Regions from separate parts of the Homo sapiens genome. Here region 1 is linked to region 2. The links come from fine-mapping of genetic effects on gene expression. A gene starts in region 2. The other region holds a variant in brackets. All regions are shown on one strand. Distances are from middle to middle. Region 1 overlaps LINC03125 (long intergenic non-protein coding RNA 3125). Region 2 holds the start of LINC03125 (long intergenic non-protein coding RNA 3125).

What was found. PIP is the estimated chance that this variant, and not a neighbour inherited with it, causes the effect. A credible set is the group of variants that fine-mapping cannot tell apart.
Region 1: its variant is the best candidate, but not a certain one, in a credible set for the expression of LINC03125 in tibial nerve (GTEx, PIP 0.89).

The regions. Positions count from the first base shown.
Region 1 is chr20:23,185,174-23,190,542 of GRCh38, reverse strand. LINC03125 (long intergenic non-protein coding RNA 3125) reads right to left here. Exons shown (of 6, transcript NR_199692.1): 5 at 2,903-3,228; 6 at 236-760. Among named protein-coding and RNA genes, the nearest start is that of LINC03125, 40 kb to the right of the region's middle. The variant C/A (reference allele first, on the strand shown) is at 2,654.
Region 2 is chr20:23,145,863-23,151,231 of GRCh38, reverse strand. LINC03125 (long intergenic non-protein coding RNA 3125) reads right to left here and starts at 3,129. Exons shown (of 6, transcript NR_199692.1): 1 at 2,818-3,129. RefSeq lists enhancers at 3-986, 2,481-3,680.

The sequences.
Region 1 (5,369 bases), 39 kb before region 2:
TAAATTTTTCTTTGCTACATATTTCAGATGAGGGAGATATAAAAGGGAAAAACAAGACATGCGCACATGTAATCCCAAAGCAAATACACCCAGAACCTCCCTCTCTTCTCTGTCCTGGTTTCATTTTTTATCTTCCTCCTTCCTTCTCAGTCCATGAGGCACTTGTTTCATTTTGGTCATTTTAATACTTGACTATTTCCTACATTAAAAAGAAAATGAGACTACCAATGGCAGAGACATTTTAAAACTACTTTTATTTTGAGTAAGTTTTTTGGCTCCTTGTCTTTTGAAAGCCTTGGCTTTGTTCTCGGTGCCTGCTGCTTTATTTCTTCAGACCTGGCCAAAGGAAATTCCCCTGCGCCACAAGGTATCTGCAAAATCTGCTGTCTTACGTGCTTGCAAAGGGCAGAGGGAGATCCACGGCCCACTTGCCATGTGGCCTCACATCGAGGGACGCCGTGTGATATGGCTTGGAGACATGCACTTGACGGCAGTGACAACAGCTCTCAGCCATGTCTGGCAGCCACTTACTTTCCCCAAGCACATCATATCATCACCTGGGAACAGCAGCTCGCCTCCTTGGGAACACAGGTTTGAGGTCTCATGGCTTCCCAGGGATAGGGGAAAAATGCAGCAGAAGGATTTGGGGCCAAAACCCATTTCTTCTCCCCAGAAGGACCACCTGGAGGTCTCTCATGGTCTTCGGCTCATCTTTGCAGCAGCACTAACCAGCGTGGGCATACTCTGCTAGGACTTCTGCCTAAGGGAGAGAAGGGGTCTCTTACCTTGGTCACGCCCTTGCCTTGAGCACACGGGCGCCAAGCTTCAGAAGGGAGACAAACCCCACACGGCTATAATTAGGGGCTTTCTTAAGTCCCTGTCACGCATGATCAAGTGTGCCAGGATTCGGGATCATACTTCCTCCCAGGACTTCCAAGCTCTTGCGTGTGATCTTCTCTAAGTCTGGGGGCTGAGGAAAAGCCAGCCCTCCCCTCCCACCAGCACCCACCCAGTGCATCTCCACCCATAGCTCTCTCTCCCAGCCAGGTCTGGACCAGAGATGCCTCAAGACAGGCGACATTGGTGACATCAACGGGACCCCAGAGGGTCTTCATCTCACTCTCAGAAGCAGGCAGCATTCTGAAAATCACCCTCACGGGCCTGCCTCTGCTCCACAGGACACCCGATGGCCCGAGGAGCTCAGATTCACCTCTCCCACCAGGGTTCTCTGTTCCTTTAAAATCCCACCTTTCCTGTCCTTCTGATTCAGAGGAAGGAGTTCTCAGGACTGTGTCTCCTCCTCCACGGCCCTGGGATCTTTGCCTATAGAGCTCCTTCTCCTCCATCTGTGAGCAAACCTCCTCCCATAGGCAGAAACCACATCCACACACACAAACCCACACAACACACCAACATCACACAGACACCATGCACACTCATAAACCCACACACAACACACCAATATCACACAAACACATATAAACCCACACACAACACACTGACATTACACACACCAACATCACATACACATAAACCTACACAACACACTGACATCATACACACAGACACCACACACATAAACCCACACAACACACCAACATCACACACAGTCACCACACACACATAAACCCATACACAACACACCAAAATCAGACACACACATAAACCCACACACAACACACTGACATCACACACACTGACATGATGCACAAATATACACCCACACACAACACACTGACATCACACACACAGACACCACACACACATAAATGCACACACAACACACCAACATCACACATACACATATCAACCCACACACAACACACTGACATCACACACACCGACATCACACACATAAACCCACACACAACACACTGACATCACACACACAGACACCACACACACACACACAATCCCACACAAAACACACCATCAGACACAGACATCACACACACACACATAAACCCACACACAACACACTGATATCACACACACCAACATCACACACAAACATAGACCCACACACAACACACCAACATCACAAACACAGACACCACACACACACATAAATCCTTACACAACACGCTGACATCACACACACAGACACTATATACACACACAAACCCACACAACACACCGACATCACACACACAGACACTATGTACACAAACATCACCCACAGACACCAGATGCACACACCACACACACTCAAACTTCTCTCTTACACACACTCTTCCATCACACCCTCACAGAGTCATGACACATGAGCATACTACACACATATCACACAAATATTCACAGACACACAGACAACCCCCCCCACACACACAATGCACACACCACACAACTGTCTCCCCGGGCCCACACCCTGTCCATATACAGACCATGGAGAGCAAGAAGGGCTGAAGCTGGTCTTGCCCCTGCCTCCTGGAGGAGGAGGGTGCACCTGAAAACAGACCCAGCAAGAGATGGGAGCCCCGGGAGCAGCCCAACTCCAGGTCCTCTGCAGAAGTGTCCTAGCCGCCACCAGGCTGCCCTGCATGGCTCAGCAGTTTCCAGTGCCAGGCTGCAGGGAGGTGTGTGGGGCTGGAATGCGAAGGCAGCAGAAACCGCCCTGCTCACTCTGACGTCAAAGAAGGGAGGGAGCCATGGG[C/A]AGTTGTGGCAGCTGTGGTTCTATACCGGTCCCAGATCTCACTGCCCATCTGCTTCCCTGCACCCGTAGGGCCTGCTGAGCTGGGCAGGGCAGCCTGGTGGCAGCTGGGTCACTCCTGCAGAGGACCTGGAGTGGGGCTGCTCCCAGGGCTTCCATCTCTTGCTGGGTCTGGTTTCAGGTGCACCCTCCTGCTCCTGAGGGTCATCCTCTCTCTCTAGAGCCCTGCCCTGGGGTTCCCTCCTTCCCTACCTGGTTATCTCCTCCTTCCGGGGATCGCCCTTAATAAACACGTGCCCCCAGTCCTCATGTCAGGGTCTGCTTCAGGAGACACAGGATGCTCGGCAGGGTCTTCCATGGTGGGGACTCCCACAGCTTCTTTCTGGCTGCCCTGCCTTCAGGCTCTGCCAGTGGTGGCTCCCATTTCCCTCTCTCCCCTAAAGAAGAGCCTCCACCAGGTCCTGTTCTGGGCCTGTCACCCAGGGTCTTTGGCTCTGTCCTTGGTGGTTCAGGTTAAACGGTGGCCCCCTCAAAATTCAAATGTCAAAGTCTTCACATGCAGTACCTCAGCAAGTGACCTGATTTGGAGTTAGGGTCTGTGAGAGGTACTCAAGTAAAAGTGAAGTCACACGGGTGGGCCCTGATCCAGTAGGACTGGTGTCTTTACAGGAAGGGGAGATCTGGAGAGAGACAGGCACAAGGGGAAGGTGATATGGAGAGCCAGGGAGCAGATGGCTGTCCACCAGCCAAGGTGGGAGGCCTGCACTGGACCTGCCAGCCACCCTCAGGAAGAGCCAGGCTGTCCAGCACCTTGATCTCAGACTTGTGACCTCCAGCCCTATGCAAGAATAAACGTCTGTGGTTTAAGCTGCCCGGGGTGTGTTCCTTGGTGACATCAGCACCAGCAGACACCCAGTGAGAAAGGCTCTGCTTTGCCTGGGCCCTTGTGGTGTCCCTTTGGTGGGCAGAGACTTGCCTGTACCCGACAGAGCCACGTGCACCTGGGTGGGGTCACCTGGTGCTCACCAATCTCTTCACCTGGAACATCAGGCCTGGCAGATGGGACCACCCGAGCATAGACTCCACCTGCCAGCCTAACCTGCTGTGAGTTCTAAGAGAAGTCTTTTGGGCAGTTGACTTTTTTTTTACTTGCGAACCTGGAGATGGAATCAGCCTAGAGTACCTGCCTGAGGCCCTGGGAGACTCTGTGGAACCGAGCCCCACCCCTTCTCGGCCTAGGGGCGAGTGTGGCTGCTGAGCAGGCCCATCCAGGCTGATGGGATGGTGGGGCCTCAGGCAAGGAGGTGACCCTGGCTGTTCCCTAGTGAAATGTAATTCCTACCTTCCTCACAGGACCCAGGGCAGCTCAGAAAACCCCTCTGAGGAGGGAAACAGTATCCAAGGAAGTAGTGCTGTGTTCTTGCCCTCTTCGCTGGTACCTGCAGGGAAGTTCTCAACATTTCAGAGCCCTTGGAGCCTCCAGTGGCCTCCTGCTGTGGTGGGAAGAGCACGGACATGAGCCAGCCAGCCAGAGCTCCAATTCCAAACCCACTGCTTACCCACTTTAAACTAACCTCACCTCAGTTTCCCCACCTGAGTGATGGGGACGAGACTATTCCCCTCAGAGTTCAGTACAATGTGGGCACTCTATCAACGTGCTTGCCAATGTTCTAGAAAACAACAGTGGCTCTGGATAATTTGAGGAGGCAGCAAGGGTAGTGATAAGGACAAAACAAAACAAAACAAAACAAAACTGGCAGGGCCACAGAAGGAGAAGGGGAAATTTAGGTAAGAACTCAGAAAAGCATCAGAGTTAGCCAGAGAAAGTCCTTTGTGAGGGGGGCTCTGTTCCAAGAAGGCTGAGTAGGAACAGCTCCAGTCTGCCGCTCCCAGCATGATTGACAGAGAAGATGGGTAATTTCCACATTTCCAACTGAGGTACCTGGTTCATCTCATTGGGACTGGTTGGACAGTGGGTGCAGCCCACGGGGGGCAAGCTGAAGCAGGCCGGGTGTTGCCTCACCTGGGAAACACAAGGGGTTGGGTGATTTCCCTTTCCTAGCCAAGGGAAGCTGTGACAGATGGTACCTGGAAAAACAGTACACTCCCACCCAAATACTGCACTTTTCCCAAGGTCTTAGCAACCAACAGACAAGGAGATTCTCTCCCGTGCCTGACTTGGCAAGTCCCATGCCCACAGAGCCTTGCTCACTGCTAGCACAGCAGTCTGAGATTGAACTGTGAGGTGGCAGCTTGGCTGGGGGAGGGGCATCCACAATTGCTGAGACTTGAGCAGGTAAACAAAGTGGCCAGGAAGCTTGAACTGGGTAGAGCCCACCAGAGGTCAGGAAGGCCTACTGCCTCTAGGCTCCAGCTCTGTGGGCAGGGCATAGCTGAACAAAAGGCAGCAGAAACTTCTGCAGACTTAAACGTCCCAGTCTGACAGCTCTGAAGAGAGCAGTGGTTCTCCCAGCATGGCATTTGAGCTCTGAGAATGAACAGACTGCCTCCTCAAGAGGGTCCCTAACCCCCATGTAGCCTAACTGGGAGACACCTTCCAGTAGGGGCTGACAGACACCCCATATAGGTGGGTGCCCCTCTGGGGCAAAGCTTCCAGAGGAAGGATCAGGCAGCAATATTTACCACCTGCAATATTTGCTGTTCTGCAGCCTCCGCTGGTGATACCCAGGCAAGTAGGGTCTGGAGTGGACCTCCAGCA
Region 2 (5,369 bases):
TCCATGGTCAGCACCATCCTTTTTCTCTAACTGAGCAGCCTTCAAGAGTTGAGCCACAGGAAGCTTCAGGGCTGCCTCTGTCCTCCCTGGCCCCAGCAGGGAGTAGGGAAGACTCTGGCCTGACGGGGAGGAAAGGGCAGCAGCTTCTCTGCACCCCGTGAAGGATGTCTCTTTCACTGTGCAGAAAAGAGAGTGGTTTCACTGTGCTCTACTCACAGGAACGGGCCCCTCTTCCTCCTGGGGCAGCCTATGGGAAGAGGGGCAGGCACCTGCCACCCACTGGCTGTCATGGCACCAGAAGGTCACACTCCAGTGGCAGGAGAACGATGGGCACTGCCCCATCCCTCTCTTAGCTTCAAGGCCTGCCCTGGGTGTGAGGGGCAGTACACTGCTGATGGTGCTGGCCCAGTAGCATTGTGCATCCCATGCAGCCCAGCCCTGGCATACAAGCCTGGCACACAGGCACCAGACCTAGCTGCTTCTCCAGTCACCTGCTTGCCTGCTGTGGGGCCTCAGGGCACACTCTGCCCTCACCCATTTTAGGAGCTGCCTCTTCCTCAAAGCCTTCTGAGTCCTCCCCTTCCCTTATGGGTGAGCCCCTCCCTGCCCCTGAGATCTCTGGGGGCACCTGTGCGACTTCTTCCCGAGGTGCCCTATACAACCCCTTGCCTAGTAGATTCAGCTGTGTTTTCTCAGACACCACAAAAGGCTTGTGCATTCTCTCGGGAGCCAGCCCTGGCGGCCTGGCAGGAGGAGCTTGGAGCTCTGTGTGCTGAGGAATCTGGAGCTCGCCCAGGCTCAGGTGCAGGGTTCCATGACAGGCTAACCATGCCTGCTGGGGAGCAGGGGGCACAGCGGAGGGTCAGGCTTTGGGAATCCATGTCCCAGGCCATCGTCACAGCTACACAGCTTTCTTCTTTCCACTTCTCCCTCAGATTTTCTAGCCTTTAAATAGGGTTCCTACAGATGAAGAGAAATGTCCCAGATAGAAACCCCACTGCGGAAAGTGATCCCCTCCCTCTGGGAAATAGAATCTCTGAAGAGGATCTTAGGCAGGATGGCACGCTGTGAGTTCAATCAGCTTTCTCAAGTGTGGATCTCAGGTGAAAACCAGGCCAATTCTCACCACACATCAGGGTCTAGGCTCCGTTTCCTGGCAGTGAGTCAGAGGGGTGACCCGAGGCTAAAGGCAGGATGGCACCTGGTCTAAAAATGGCCATGGTTAATCCTCAGGGTAGCAGCAATGGCATTTTTTGAAGAGTCAGGCCAGGGTAAATAAACTCTTGAGATGTAAATGTTTAGTCTTCTTTATTTCTGCCCATCTTGAGCAGAGCCGGGCCCTAAGCTCTGAGCAGGTTTAAATTCGCACAAGTGATAGGTCCCCCCTGGAGATCCTGCATCCCAGGTGCACTCAGCCCTGGCCTACAGTTCTCCTACAAAAGGCTTGTTCCTAGAGGACATTCACACATCAGAGGGAGAGTTAAGCAACATCATTTATTTGACTCTTCACTCACTTAGCAAACTTCGACTGAGAGAAGAAATTGAGTTTGTTTGGGAGCTGGTCCCAGGGAGCAGGAGGAAGAGGAAGAGTCAGACAGGGAGGAGGCAACACAGGGTGTGTTTCTGGGCCTTTGAAAGCACGCAGATTGCCTCTCAGAATTGTCCCTCTGAAGGACGAGGCCATATGCACTAGCTCCTACCTTGGGGACACTGGTGCCCTCCCCCAAATACCCTTCAGGTGGTGCCTGCACTCAGGCTGAGGAGGAGGATGTCACGGTGTAGGTGCAGGGAAGGGTGCTATCAGGAAGCACAGCTGTGTCCACCACAGCTGGGGGCCACGGGCCTGCACCTCCACACAGGTGTTGGCTGCTGCAGCCTGGGATGGTCCTCTCTCTCCAGCCCCAGGTCCCTGTGGCTGGGCCATAGGAGTCGCTCAGAAGACTTCATCCCAAACTCACAACTACCATCCTCATCTGAACCTTTGGAAGTCATGAAAATGTGGAAGCACTGGCTGGAAGTTAGCAAGCAGGTTATTATCGAGGCAATGGCTTATGCCGTCTTCCTGGGACCTCCATGTGGAGGAAGCCGGGGCTGCAGCAAGACCTCTGTCTTCGCCCTCGCTGTGGGTCTTGGATCTCACCAGAGCAGGAATCCTTTCAGACCATGGTTTCCTGGCTTATTTGTTTTGTAAAAAATCTGCTAAAGAGGGACTAAGAAGATGTGAAAGCCACATCCACGTATTTTAAAAGTTGCACATATTTTAAAAGTTGCACATAGAACAGGGAGGAGCTTGTCCTGTGTATCCCAGAGGATAAAGCTAGGGACAAGGGTGCTCTGTGTGTGTATGTGTGTGTGTGTGTGTGTGTGTGTGTGTTGTTTTGTTTGTGGTTCTCTGTGTCATCCCCATAGGATTTGAGAATGAGGGGAAGTAAAGGAAAACAAAGGAACACTTTAGATTGTCCTCTTGAAAACTCATGGATTTCCAAGCACTGTGCTAGAAGCTGCCACATCAGCATCTTCTGGGAACTTGTTAGAAAGGGAAATTCTTGGGCCCACCTCAAACCCACTGATTCTCATACATGCTCAGGTATGAGAATCACTCTTCTAAATATAGGAAAAGATCTTTCTAACAGATATCATTGACCAAAGTTGCAGTGCCTTTCCTCATGAGGTGGTGAGTGCTACTCTTCTGGAAGCATTCAAGAGAAGGAGTAACCATTAGTCACGCATGTTGCAAAGGAAGTGAACACAACAGGTACAGAGTTCAACTGAAGTCACTTCCTTGGTTGCTCAGTATTTTAGCAAACATTTACTGACCAGCAGTACTGGGCACTGTTCACAGTGACAGGCGACAGGAATAGAAATCCACAGAAGCTCCCCGTTCTTGCCTGCTCCGAAGACTGAAGTCCAGCAGTCTCTCATGCTGTGGGCCCAGACACTGCTCTCTGTCTTGACTGCCAAACCCTGGCTGGCCAAGTGACGATTCACCATCCTTACAACATACTCCAGTCACTGAAGATTCCCCACGGAACCACCACCTTCCTGCTCAGGCCTCTTCATCTATCCAACAGGAGGAGGGGAAAGAGACCATTGACCCAGGACTGCCCTGGCGTGCATGAAGCCCTGAGTGAGGGCTGTGGCAACTTCCCGGCCTGCACACACTGCTGCTGCTTTCTTGGTGCCTATGAGTCATGCCTTGTCACCCGTGTGACATTAATCACTCAGTGGGACTCAGAAATCCAGCAGATGAATTCTGAAACTGAGTTGGGGAGGAGGCCAAATGTCTCATCGTGAGATGAGTCCCAGGGTACAGTCTCGGACAGATGAATATTCTAGATTACAAGGCTTAGCACTTTAACCAGAGAATAAATACAGACTGTGGTTGTTTCCATGTATTTAAAAAAAGTAAATTATGACACAAGTGATGCACATTTGTTCGGGGAAAGTTACAGTACAGATGGGCAAAACCAAAGAAAAAAGTGCATCAGTTCCCCTAAACTCCACCACCCAGAAACAATTGCTATTAACAGGAGGACGTGGTTTACTTCCAATGCTTTTCTGGGCACATATGTAAGTGTGTGTGTGTGGCAGTGCAACCGTGGAATCGCATTGTAAGACTTGACCCTAACACAGCTTTCCATTTAAAGTATATTGTGAATACGTTTCTACGTCAATACATTTAAATGATCAATTTTAAAGCTATCTAGCCCTCTACTGGCATCAATGCAAATTTTCCTCAGATTGTATCACGTTTAAAAAGTTTTTCTAAGATACACCACACACTCTCCTGCCTTCCCTTCCTGTTTTCTAATCCAAGTACAGAAACATGACATTGCTTGTTTCTAGGTGCCTTGGGGTCGCTGTTATTCAGTGAACCCCTCAGGATGTAAAGTTTCAATAAAGAAGCAGTTTGGTAGAGACAAAAGAGCTCCAGATTAGAAATCAGGATAGCTCTGGGCCCCTGTGCACTCAGGCTCCACATGGTTATGCACAGAACCTTCAGAACCTTCAGATTCATCACTAGCAGGATGGGTCCAGGGCGTGGGTCTTTGCTATGAGATCACCTTAGGTACCTCTGGAGGAGCTGGTCACACCAGTGATAACCCTTTGGAGAGGAGAAAGTCAATGGAGGAGGAGAAGACATGCCTCAGAATCACACCCCAGTTGTTGCTTGAAGTGTGGTCAAGGAGCTGCTTATCTCCACCCACACCTCCTCCTGGACACACAAAGGATATACATTCCTGGGCCCAGTTCAGCTCTTCCAAATTGGAACCTTTGTGGGTGAAGCACAAATAACATGCTTTTAAACAAGTACCCCTGAAGTTTGTCACAGAAAGTTGAGCTCATTGCTCCACTCCTAAAATGTCATTTCTCTTAAACATCTGAAACGGTTCTGCTCGGAGAGGCCACCTGTTGACCACTTGCTTGGCTGCTTGGCCTCGTAGGGCAGGGGGCAAGCAGGAGACAGAGGAAAGATCAGGATCGACATTTTTCTTCAGTGTTCCATAGGAAAACCATTCTTTTATGTTTCTCTTTGGCATTTGCAAATACACACCAAAGATTTGCCTCCTGTGAGTTGTTTTTTTTTTTTTTTTTTTGGCGGGGGGTGGGGGGTGGGTAGAATGTCCTTGCCCAGCCCCTTCCTCACTGATTCTTAACCCTTCCCTCTCCCCGGATCCATAGTGCGCTCAGATCCTGACCCTCTGAGACTGCCCAGCCCCGAGACCCGCCACGTCCCCGCAGAACAGTCCATGCAGCGAAAAGATGAGAAACGTGACTGTGAAGCATGGTGCCCTTGATTCGACTGCTTCATTCATTTCAGCAGATGTCACCAGGGCCCTGTAGGGAAGATTGTGCAGATCTGTGTGGTCTAAACAGACAACTTCATGTAGATTGCACTGGATTTATCTTGGCTCTGCCCAGAGGTGATTTGGCTCTGATAGGGAGCCTTCTCATGGAGTGGTTTTGGCCTCTGAGAAGTGGCAGAATTGCTGAGTTCAGCCTGATTGTCCAGGAAGAGCCACATCTTATAGATTCTAATATTTCCTCAAGATCTTGGAATAGCACTGCTATTCACCAACTGATGCTTACTTATTAATTAAACATCTGTTAAACTCTCGATAGGTGCCAGACAGTGTAGTAGGTGGCCATATATTAGAATGAATAAACAGCTGAATCATTGCAGATGAACTTTGTTGCACTTCAGATAATCAAAAACATAATTCAAACTTGTTTAGGAAAATATAATAAATTTCATATGTCGTTTAAATACATAATTAAATAGATAAGATAATAGCTATTCATTACTCACCAAAGATCTGTTTTTTATAAGCACATTTCTCATTTAAATCAAACCCCCCCATCTCTGT